Linked DNA regions of Homo sapiens. The protein of the gene in region 2 purifies or fractionates together with the protein of the main gene of each other region. This does not show direct contact. Each region holds a gene or a part of one and is shown on either strand. Other genes may lie near its edges.

Region 1 (5,565 bases), on a different chromosome or scaffold from region 2:
AAATACTGGCAAACCGAATCCAGCAGCACACCAAAAAGCTTATCCACCAAGATCAAGTTGGCTTTATCCCTGGGATGCAAAGCTGGTTCAACATATGCAAATCAATAAACGTAATCCATCACGTAAACAGAACCAACGACAAAAACCACATGATTATCTCAACAGATGCAGAAAAGGCCTTTGACAAAATTCAACAGCCCTTCATACTAAAAACTCTCAATAAACTAGGTATTGATGGAACGTATCTCAAAATAATAAGAGCTATCTATGACAAACCCACAGCCAGTATCATACTGAATGGGCAAAAACTGGAAGCATTCCCTTTGAAAACTGGCACAAGACAGGGATGCCCTCTCTCACCGCTCCTATTCAACATAGTGTTGGAAGTTCTGGCCAGGGCACTCAGGCAAGAGAAAGAAATAAAGGGTATTCGACTAGGAAAAGAGGAAGTCAAATTGTCCCTGTTTGCAGATGACATGATTGTATATTTAGAAAACCCCATTGTCTCAGCCCAAAATCTCCTTAAGCTGATAAGCAACCTCAGCAAAGTCTCAGGACACAAAATCGATGTTGAAAAATCACAAGCATTCTTATATACCAATAACAGACAAACAGAGAGCCAAATCATGAGTGAACTCCCATTCACAATTGCTTCAAAGAGAATAAAATACGTAAGAATCCAACTTACAAGGGATGAGAAGGACCTCTTCAAGGAGAACCACAAACCACTGCTCAACGAAATAAAAGAGGACACAAACAAATGGAAGAACATTCCATGCTCATAGAGAGGAAGAATCAATATCGTGAAAATGGCCATACTGCCCAAGGTAATTTATAGATTCAATGCCATCCCCATCAAGCTACCAATGACTTTCTTCACAGAATTGGAAAAAACTACTGTAAAGTTCATATGGAACCAAAAAAGAGCCCGCATTGCCAAGACAATCCTAAGCCAAAAGAACAAAGCTGGAGGCATCATATAGACTTCAAACTATACTACAAGGCCACAGTAACCAAAACAGCATGGTACTGGTACCAAACGGGAAATATAGACCAATGGAACAGAACAGAGGCCTCAGAAATAACATCACACATCTACAACCATCTGATCTTTGACAAACCTGACCAAAACAAGCAATGGGGAAAGGATTCCCTATTTAATAAATGGTGCTGGGAAAACTGGCTAGCCATATGGAGAAAGCTGAAACTGGATCCCTTCCTTACACCTTATACAAAAATCAATTCAAGATGGATTAGACTTAGACCTAAACCCATAAAAACCCTAGAAGAAAACCTAGGCGATACCATTCAGGACATAGGCATGGGCAAGGACTTCATGACTAAAACACCAAAAGCAATGGCAACAAAAGCCAAAACAGATAAATGGGATCTAATTAAACTAAAGAGCTTCTGCACAGCAAAAGAAACTACCATCAGCGTGAACAGGCAACCTACAGAATGGGAGAAGATGTTTGCAATCTACCCATCTGACAAAGGGCTGATATCCAGAATTTACAAAGAACTTAAACAAATTTACAAGAAAAAATCAAACAACCCCATCAAAAAGTGGGCAAAGGATATCAACAGATATGTCTCAAAAGAAGACATGTATGCAGCCAATAGACACGTGAAAAAATGCTCATCATCACTGGTCATCAGAGAAATGCAAATCAAAACCACAATGAGATACCATCTTACACCAGTTAGAATGGCGATCATTAAAAAGTCAGGACACAACAGGTGCTGGAGAGGATGTGAAGAAATAGGAATGCTTTTACAATGTTGGTGGGAGTGTAAACTAGTTCAACCATTGTGGAAGACAGTGTGGTGATTCCTCAAGGATCTAGAACTAGAAATACCATTTGACCCAGTGATCCCATTACTGGATATATACCCAAAGGATTATAAATCATGCTACTATGAGGACACATGCACACATATGTTTATTGTAGCACTATTCACAATAGCAAAGACTTGGAACCAACCCAAATGTCCATCAATGATAGACTGGATTAAGAAAATGTGGCACATATACACCATGCAATACTATGCAGCCATAAAAAAGGATGAGTTCATGTCCTTTGTAGCGACATGGATGAAGCTGGAAACCATCATTCTGAGCAAACTATCACAAGGACAGAAAACCAAACACCACTTGTTCTCACCCATAGGTGGGAACTGAACAATGAGAACACTTGGACACAGGGCGGGGAACATCACACACCTGGGCCTGTCGTGGGGTCAGGGGATGGGGGAGGGATAGCATTGGGAGAAGTGCCTAACATAAATGATGAGTTGATGGGTGCAGCAAACCAACACGGCACATGTATACATACGTAACAGGCCTGCACGTTGTGCACATGTACCCTAAAACTTAAAGTATACTAATAAAATAATTTAAAAAAGAAAAAGATACTTGCACACGCATGTTTAAGCAGCACAATTCAAAAGTGCAAAAATGTGGAACCAACTCAAATGCCCATCAATCAACGAGTAGATAAAGAAACTGTGGTATATATATACATGATGGAATACTACTCAGCCATAAAAACGAATGAATTAATGCATTCGCAGCGACCTGGATGAGACTGGATGCTATTGTTCTAAGTAAAGTAACTCAGGAATGGAAAACCAAACATCATATGCTCTCATTCACAAGTAGGAGCTAAGCTATGAGGATGCAAAGGCTTAAGAATGACACAATGGGCTTCGGGGACTCAGGGGGAAAGGATGGGAAGGGAGTGTGGTGTATACTGCTCAGGTGCACAAATTGGGTGCAGTGTATACTGCTCAGGTGATAGGTGCACCAAATTCTCACAAATCACCAGTAAAGAACTTATGTAATCAAACACCACCTGTTCCCTGATAACCTATGGAAATAAAAAAAATTGAAAAAAACAGAAGACAAAAAGCACTGGTAAAGATAACTATGTAATTATAAATGATATACATGTATATTTCTTCTCCTTAACTGATTTAAAAAGAAAAAGAAAAAAAAGTCCCTGTTTGTAGAGAATCCACACAGTTAACTTTATGTTTCCTGTCACAAGAAAGACTCTAAGACCCTCACTCAGAGCTCTTTGCTTTTAATAGACATCTCAAATAAAATTAGTTACCTGGTTTCTCACCCACAGATTAGAAATAGAAAACCAAATAAGATTCAGGGGATATCAGAAGCCAGCTAACAGTGAAGTAAAAGATGAACAGATAAATGAACAGAAAGAAATAAAGATGTACAATTCTAAAAAGCAATCAGAGACATTTCTAAAAAGCATTGCAGTTTAGGTCATTTAATCTGGTAATTCTCAAACTTGTTGGTCTCAGGACCTTGTTCTTGTAAAACTTTCTGAGAACATTAAAGAGCTTTTTTAGTGTAAGTTTTATACATATACATATAAAAAGTTATAAATATTTATATAAAGCTAAAACAAAGTGTTTATTAATTCATTCAAAACAGTAAACCCATACCACTTATTAACATAAACCTACTTTTTATTTTAAAAAACTATATTTTTCAAAAAAGAAAAAGTTTAGTGAGAACAGTGCCATCAGGGTTGAATCTCTTTAATATCTAGTTTAACAGATGACAGCTAAATTCTCTTATCTACTTTTATATTCAGTCTGTTATGTTGCTTTAAGTATATGAAGAAAATCCAACTTTACAAAGATACATAGTTGGAAAGGGAAGAAGTATTTTAATAGCCTTTTCAGATCATTATTAATATTCTTTAATACCACATTAAAACTCAACAAGTGGTCGTTTCTTAAAAATTAGTTGCAATGAACCATATTGCAGTATACCTGAAACCATATCATAAAATTTTGTACACTAAATTAAAATCCATTAGGTCTTTTACCCATGGTGATTTGACATTTAGAAAATATTGGTTCTCTGAGTTATGCAGACTTTCCAAATGCTGACACATTTCCTTGTTAAAATATCAAAAAGTGATATTTTAACAAATATGATCACCACCAATTTCATAAGAAGAGTCTATAAGCACTGGGAAGCTGTCAAGCTCACCACAGCAGCAAATATGTTTTACAAAGTTTCAACCTTCACTTAAATTTTTATCATGACTCACAAATAAATTAGTTGCTCTCCTTGAAGAAAAGGTTCACTTCATTCATTTTCAGGAAAATGTGTACCAATTATCCTATTCTGAATAGTCTCTGTGACTGTTATCCTTTCAAGTAAAAATGGTATTCCACGAAAAAAGCACATAGTTCAGCTCACAACTCAAATAATGTAAGTGCTTTTCCTGAGACAACCATCATACTTCAGTAGGCATCACACAGAATATTTGTAAGATGCATACTTAAAGGTAAAGATTTAATAAAATTAATAATTTTTACTGCTTCATCAAGGACAAGATTAAATAAAACTGGCACTTTTTTTTTTAACTGCCAATGCATGGCAATGAAAATGCAATGACACTAGTAGAGTCTGCTAACATCTTGATCCATGTTATGGCACCAGCAATTTTATGCATCATTGTTATTCACCAACAGCACAAATGCCAAAGCAGAAAAAAAACTCATTATAATTTTTAAAAAATTCCTAAGTAGACAACATCTTAGTATTATGATGCAGAGTTCTGACTCATAGACTCCCTGAAAGGGTTCTGGGAATTCAAGGGTCTACAGACCACACTTTGTTCATCACTGATTTAACCTACTACATGGGTGATTGGCCCTATGTCTTAATGAAACCTGAGAGAATTTTTCCATTCACTTTTAATGTTTATAACTGATTATTTCATGAAGAAAAGGCAAAACTGTATTCATTAGATTCCACTTTTTTAAAAAAAAAAGGTCAGTTAGTGTATATCTTAGAAATATTTCCAGCTAAAATGTCAATAAAACAACCCTTAGAACTTAATATTCAGTTGCCTGGCAATTATACTTTACGTCAGCCATCTCATTTCCTGACCCATCTCATTTCCTGATAATTTTGCAAATATACATAGTATCTACATTTACATTTTCTGAGAAATGAAGATATTAAAATATGGTATAAGAGTTTTCAAAATAAAAAAAGACAAACTATCACCCACATTTTAGATAACTGCCATCCTGCATGCTTCAATTCAAGACAGAATCAGGGGTTACAAGAGTCAGAGAGGCAGAGGTAAAGTACCTAGGAATATGAAAGCTCATATGAATGACCAGTCAAACTGAGGCAAGAATCTGATGAGAACAGCTTTCTAACTGCAAAAATAGGCAAAGATGTGAGTTGCAAGATTAGACCTTGAGAAGCCACAAAGGGTTTGGTTGGAAGGAGGCAGGGAGACATGGGCATAAGGCCAACTGCCCCCATCAATGCCTAGTCAGGTGCAAGGCTGCAGAGAATTTTACACAGAGAATTTGCATAAAAATTTTCACCAAAAAAGTAAAATCAAGCCAGTGTAATAAGAGTAAATAATTTATTTCAAGGGCAATGCACTGCATACAAACACACTGCATCCTCTCCACTCAGATACTAAATTTTCATATTACCTTTTTTCTCTTCTTCCTCTTCTTCACAAAATTCTGCTAGAGAAAATGTTTCTTTGAGTTGCTCTA
Region 2 (5,565 bases):
CAGACTACACAGGTCGTCTTCAATTATTACTCTGAGCCGCTGCTATTTTCCCAGTCAGAGGCAGTGCTGTGCCACACTGCTGCTCAGGAAAAGTTCCCAAGGCAGCTACAGGTAATAATCACAAGAGCAGCCAACATTTATTTCCTGCTTTCTTAATAAGTAAGGCCCTACTGTATGCTGCCTCCAACTTCCTCTCCCAGGCTATAGAACACCAATTGTATGCCTAAACTATACTGTCCAATTTCATCCTCACAACCTATGTGGTATCTATTTTGATCTGTTTCATAGATAGGAAGGCAGATGCAGAGAAGTTACACTATTTGTTCAAGCAAATGGCAGAGCTGGGATTTGAACCCAGTCTTAGCACCGGCAATATTGTCTTTTTAGGAAATAGAGTTGGGAGTATCACCATATCTAACCCCCTTACAGTACAGATGAAGAAATTGAGGTCCAGAGAAGGTAAATAACTTGTCCAGTGTCACATCCAGAATAGGTGAAAGTTCCAGAACTAGATCTTGTTTCTTCTGACTTTAAACCCAGCCTTTTTTTAAATTTCTATTTTTCCTACTTTCCTTTGCAATTCAAAGCAAATTTACATGAGGCTACTTGGCCTCACTGGACTTGCTGGAGATACTAATACTCCTCAGACATACATTACTAGCTGTGTAGCCTGGCCATTGTACTTAACTCTGCTAGGTCTCAGCTCCTCACTGTAAAATCTAACAGTGCTCCTAGTGTGGTTGTGAGGCTTAGTCAAGGTAATCAGGAGGCTGGGTGCAGTGGCTCATGCCTATAATCCCAACACTTTGGGAGGCCGAGGCGGGTGGATTGCCTGAGGTTAGAAGTTCAAGACCAGCCTGGCCAACATGGTGAAACCCCGTCTCTACTAAAAATACAAAAATTAGCAGGACATGGTGGCGGGTGCCTCTAATCCCAGCTACTCGGGAGGCTGAGGCAGGAGAATCACTTGAACCCAGGAGGCGGCGGTTGCAGTGAGCCGACACAGCGAGACTCTGTCTCAAAAAAAAAAAAATTAAGAAAAAAAGATAATCAGGGAAGAGCATACAGTAGGGCCTTACTTATTAAGAAAGCATGAAATAAATGTTGGCTGCTATTGTGATTATTACCTGATTGGTGTGCTATTGTTTCTGTTTACATTTAATACTTATAATCTTAGATGGGTAGATGTGGAGGGAGGATATATCCCCATTTAACAGACAAGATACCAAGGCTCAGAGGGCACCTGAACCCACACTCAACCTACAGCTCTTTTCAGGACACTCTGCTCTCTGACTTTAGGAAGAGATGAAGGCTGCAAGCTTGTTTTTAAGCCCACATGCGGTTTCCTGTTGTACAGTCTGTTCTCAGAGCAGTTCTGCTGAAGAAAGGGGTGATCTGGTCGTTAGTGACGGGGAGTCTGATGACTGGGTGCCTTGCCCTGAGTTTACAGGAAAATAAATTTTAGGCCTCAGGGCAGTCTCGTGACAGCCTAGAGGAACAAATCTAGAAGAAAAAAGACTTCCACTGGACACCAGAACTGAGCTCAGAATTAAGAATGTTTAGTCAGTTCAAGCACCTGGAAGGCCTGGAAACTGTCACAGGATTGCAGGACAGCCAAATGCTGTTGGGTGGCTGAGGAAAAAGGAGATAGTTCAAGGACTAAACTCAGCCAATGTGGCTTAGGTCTGCTTATGAATTGTAAGGCCAGGGCCACTATGTCATTAACTCTGAAATGAACAAGCAGGTGTCCCTGGACCTGCATGTCAAGCATCCCATTGTGGGAAACAACCTCAGACTGGGCGTCAGGATGTCCTCTCAAGTCAATACTTTCCCTCTCTGGACCTCTGCTTCCTGCATCATAAGAAATCAGAGAGTACTAGTCCATTACCCACTTTTTTTTTTTTTTTTTTTTTTTTGAGACAGCATCTCACTCTGTCACCCAGGCTGGAGTGCAGTGGCACAATCATGGCTCACCATAGCGACTTCCCAGGCTCAGGTGATCCTCCCATCTCAGCCTCCTTAGTAACTAGGACTACAGGCGCCCACCACCATGCCTGGCTAATTTTTGTATTTTTTTGTAGAGACAGGGTTTTGCCATGTTGCCCATGCTGGTCTCGAACTCTTGGGCTCAAGCGATCCACCCACCTCTGCCTCCCAAAGTGCTAGGATTACAGGTGTGAGCCACTACGCCTGGTCCATTACCTACATTTTTTTTTTTTTTTTTTTGAGACGGAGTATGGCTCTGTCGCCCAGGCTGGAGTGCAGTGGCACAATCTCGGCTCACTGCAACCTCAGCCTCCCAGGTTCAAGCGATTCTCCTGCCTCAGCCTCCCAAGTAGCCGGGATTACAAGTGCCCGCCACCACGCCTGGCTAATTTTTTGTATTTTTAGTAGAGACAGGATTTCACTATGTTGGCCAGGCTGGTCTCGAACTCCTGACCTCATGATCTGCCCGCCTCGGCCTCCCAAAGTGCTAGGATTACAGGTGTGAGCCACCACGCCCAGCCACACATTTTATAGAAAAGAAAAACAGCCATCATTTACTGACCACCTACTATGTGCCACACCCTGAGCTAAGTAGTCAAAAGCCATAGCTCCACACCATGATGTGGAGTAGGAAATTGAAGCAATTTGCCCAGGGTCACAGAGATAGCTAGTTAAAGGACTTCTCTCCACCAAATGCTAGGTGTGTAACCTCAGGTAACGTATATAATCCCCTCTTGCCTCAGTTTCCTCATCTGTAAATTGGAGATGACAGCATTTACCTCATAAGGGTGATTATGAGTTAAAGCATGTGCTTCAAGCAGTGTCTGGCATACGGTACATGTTTGCTACTGCTGTTATTATTATACCCAAACTTCCCCTTTTTCATCTGTAATGAGGAGGTTGACTACAAGGCCTTTAAAGATGCCCTGCTGGGTGATCCACTGAGGCTGTGGGCTCAGACATGGCCCTCATCACTGGAAAATGCAGGCTGCATGCCAGGCATGGTGGTTCATGCCTATACACTTTGGGAGGCTGAGGTAGGAGGACTGCTTGAGCCCAGGAGTTTGAGACTAGCCTGGGCAACACAGTGAGACCCTGTCTCTATAAAAAAATTAAAAATCAGCCAGGCATGGTGGGACATGCCTGTAGTCCCAGCTACTCAGTGGGGGTGGGTGGGGGTAATTACTTGCGCCCTGGGAGGTTGAGGCTGCAGTGAGCCGTGATCGCACCACTGCACTCAAGCCTAGGCAATAGAGCGAGACCCTGAAAAAAAAAAATCAAAGAAAGGAAGGAAAGAAAGGGGAAGGAAGGAAGGGAGGGAGGGAGGGAGGAAAGGAAGGAAAAATGCAGGCTACTGTGTCACTTTCCTCACAGGAAGTTTTCTCAGACCACAGAGGAGAATATTACAGACACCCAGGGCTAGAAGTCAAATCCCCCGATTTTGCCCAAGAATGGCAAATAATTTTCCACAATCAGCCAGTGCTGTAAAGATGAATGCCAGTCTGGCTTACCATCATGCACCAGTCACTGACGGACATCTCGTGGGACCTTTCAAAATAAGCATTCTTCTCCTGCTGTCCCAGCCACAGGTCATGTCCTTGAGTTTCACAAGTAGCCTCTTTGGCTTTCTCACACGTGGTGAAGAGTGGCAAACAGACTTTCTGTTCTCCAACTCACTTTTTTCTTCCCTAGCAGAGGAGATCCCACTGCTTATAGCTCAGGAAATTTAAGCCTCAACTGCAACAGTGGCTGGAAACCTTTTCTAGTAGCAGAATTTTATAACTCACAGAAAGAATTTGGTCTTAAGGTCCCTGCAATCAGTGTCAAGCCTGATTTCTGCAGTGCCACTCACTTCAATGCCAGGCATGTGGGATCAGACAGCAGGGAATTTGCTATCAAAAGAGCTGGGTCTGAATCCAGGTTCTGCCACTCCTAGGCTATGTGACTTTGAGCAAGTCTCTGACAGAGGCTTCTTCATTTGTAAAATGCGGAACAAGAACATCCCTCACAAGGCTTTTAAGTGAGGTGTAAAGGCACCAAAGGAAAGGGTTTGTCCAAGGTCAGCAGATAAAGACTAGGACCAAGTCTCTACATCTTGAGCTGATTTTCAACATCTTGCTTCCTTTTGGGTAAGAAAGCCACAAAGTTTGACTTTGTGTACCTTCCTCCCCTCCTCCTAAGAGGGCCCAGAAGAGAAGCTACTGACCTCTTGTAGGAGTAGCCCAAGATGATGCCAGCTCCGATGGCAATGATGATCACCATCATGGTAATGCCCAGCACGTAGCCTGCCAAGGATAGGACACAAGGTCCCATTAGCCACACCCTAGACAATCAGCAAATGACATCTCTTGATGAATCCCAACGAGGGCAGGGGTGGGGGACCGTCATACCCAGAGTTCCCAGGTCCTTTTTCTCCTTGGAGTTCATCCGCACCCGCTGGCTGATCCCAATCACTGGCTGCACAGCTGCCGCCTCACTCCGAGCGGGCAGGGCGTTGGCAGGAGCGAACACCTGCACCTCATCTGCACCTGGCCCTTCAGACGCTTCCTGGATTTCTGTCGTGAAGGCTGGCAGGGCCTGGGAGGTGGTCTCTGGAGATGAGGTGGGAAACAGCTCTCATCAGGGACTGCCCTGAGTGAATTCCACAGCTGAACCTGGCCTGAGTGTTAGGGTAGATGAAGGTGGGTCACCTAAGAATTTCCCCCCACACACAACCCAAAGTCAAATTCTGCCCCAGAGGTAAGATCAGGCCTGAGAGGGCTGAACCATCTCAGGGACAAGGCAAATGAGAGAGGAAGGCCGTAGGGAAGGGCTTCTCTCCTACCTCCCACGTCTTTATCTGTCCAAATCCTTGCTATTTCCCAAGGCCCCTCTCGGTTGCGTTCTTCTGCAGGGGATTCCCCCCACTTCTACTTCAGGAAACAACCCATGCTTCCTTTGAGCAGCTCACATCTAAGCGTACGCTCTGTGCCAGTCCTTAGGTAAAATGTTTTACTTTGTGCCGGGAGCGGTGGCTCACGCCTGTAATCCCAGCACTTTGGGAGGCCAGACGGTCGGATCACCTGAGGTCAGGAGTTAGAGAGCAGCCCGGCCAACATGGTGAAACCCCGTCTCTACTAAAAATACAAAAATTAGCTGGGCGTGGTGGTGCACGCCTGTTATCCCAGCTACTCAAGCGGCTGAGGCAGGAGAATCACTGTAACGCGGAAGGCGGAAGTTGCAGTGAGCCGAAATTGCGCCACTGCACTCCAGCCTGGGTGACAGAACGAGACTCCGTCTCAAAAAATAAAAAATAAAAAATAAATGCTTTATTTTGATTATCCCATTTAAACCTAGAAAACTCTCTTGCTGCTTTGGGAGCAAAAAGCCTGCGCTCTGGAATCTAAGAAACGTGAATTCAAATCTGTCCCCTGCCATTGCCTTTGGTAAATCGCTTAACTTCTCTGAAGCTCAGATGCCTCAAACGACTTCTTCCCGCGGTGTGTGTCAGGGGAGGTTGGGGAGCTGGGGTTGTGAGCAGTGTGGGTCTAGCACACTGCAGACGCTCCGCAAACGGTCAATAAACGCTGAGGGGCCAAA

Evidence for each region. Proteins that work in one complex are often made in the same cells at the same time.
Region 1: the proteins of PIK3IP1 (region 2) and FAM114A2 purify together in Homo sapiens (affinity purification with mass spectrometry; one large-scale study listed by BioGRID and IntAct). This does not show direct contact.

What each region holds. Positions count from the first base shown.
Region 1 is NC_000005.10:154,020,900-154,026,464, forward strand, and holds part of FAM114A2 (protein FAM114A2), read right to left. Parts: coding exon 5,500-5,565; intron 1-5,499.
Region 2 is NC_000022.11:31,285,123-31,290,687, forward strand, and holds part of PIK3IP1 (phosphoinositide-3-kinase-interacting protein 1 isoform 1 precursor), read right to left. Parts: intron 4,578-5,565; coding exon 4,377-4,577; intron 4,272-4,376; coding exon 4,193-4,271; intron 1-4,192. UniProt on the Homo sapiens protein: Negative regulator of hepatic phosphatidylinositol 3-kinase (PI3K) activity.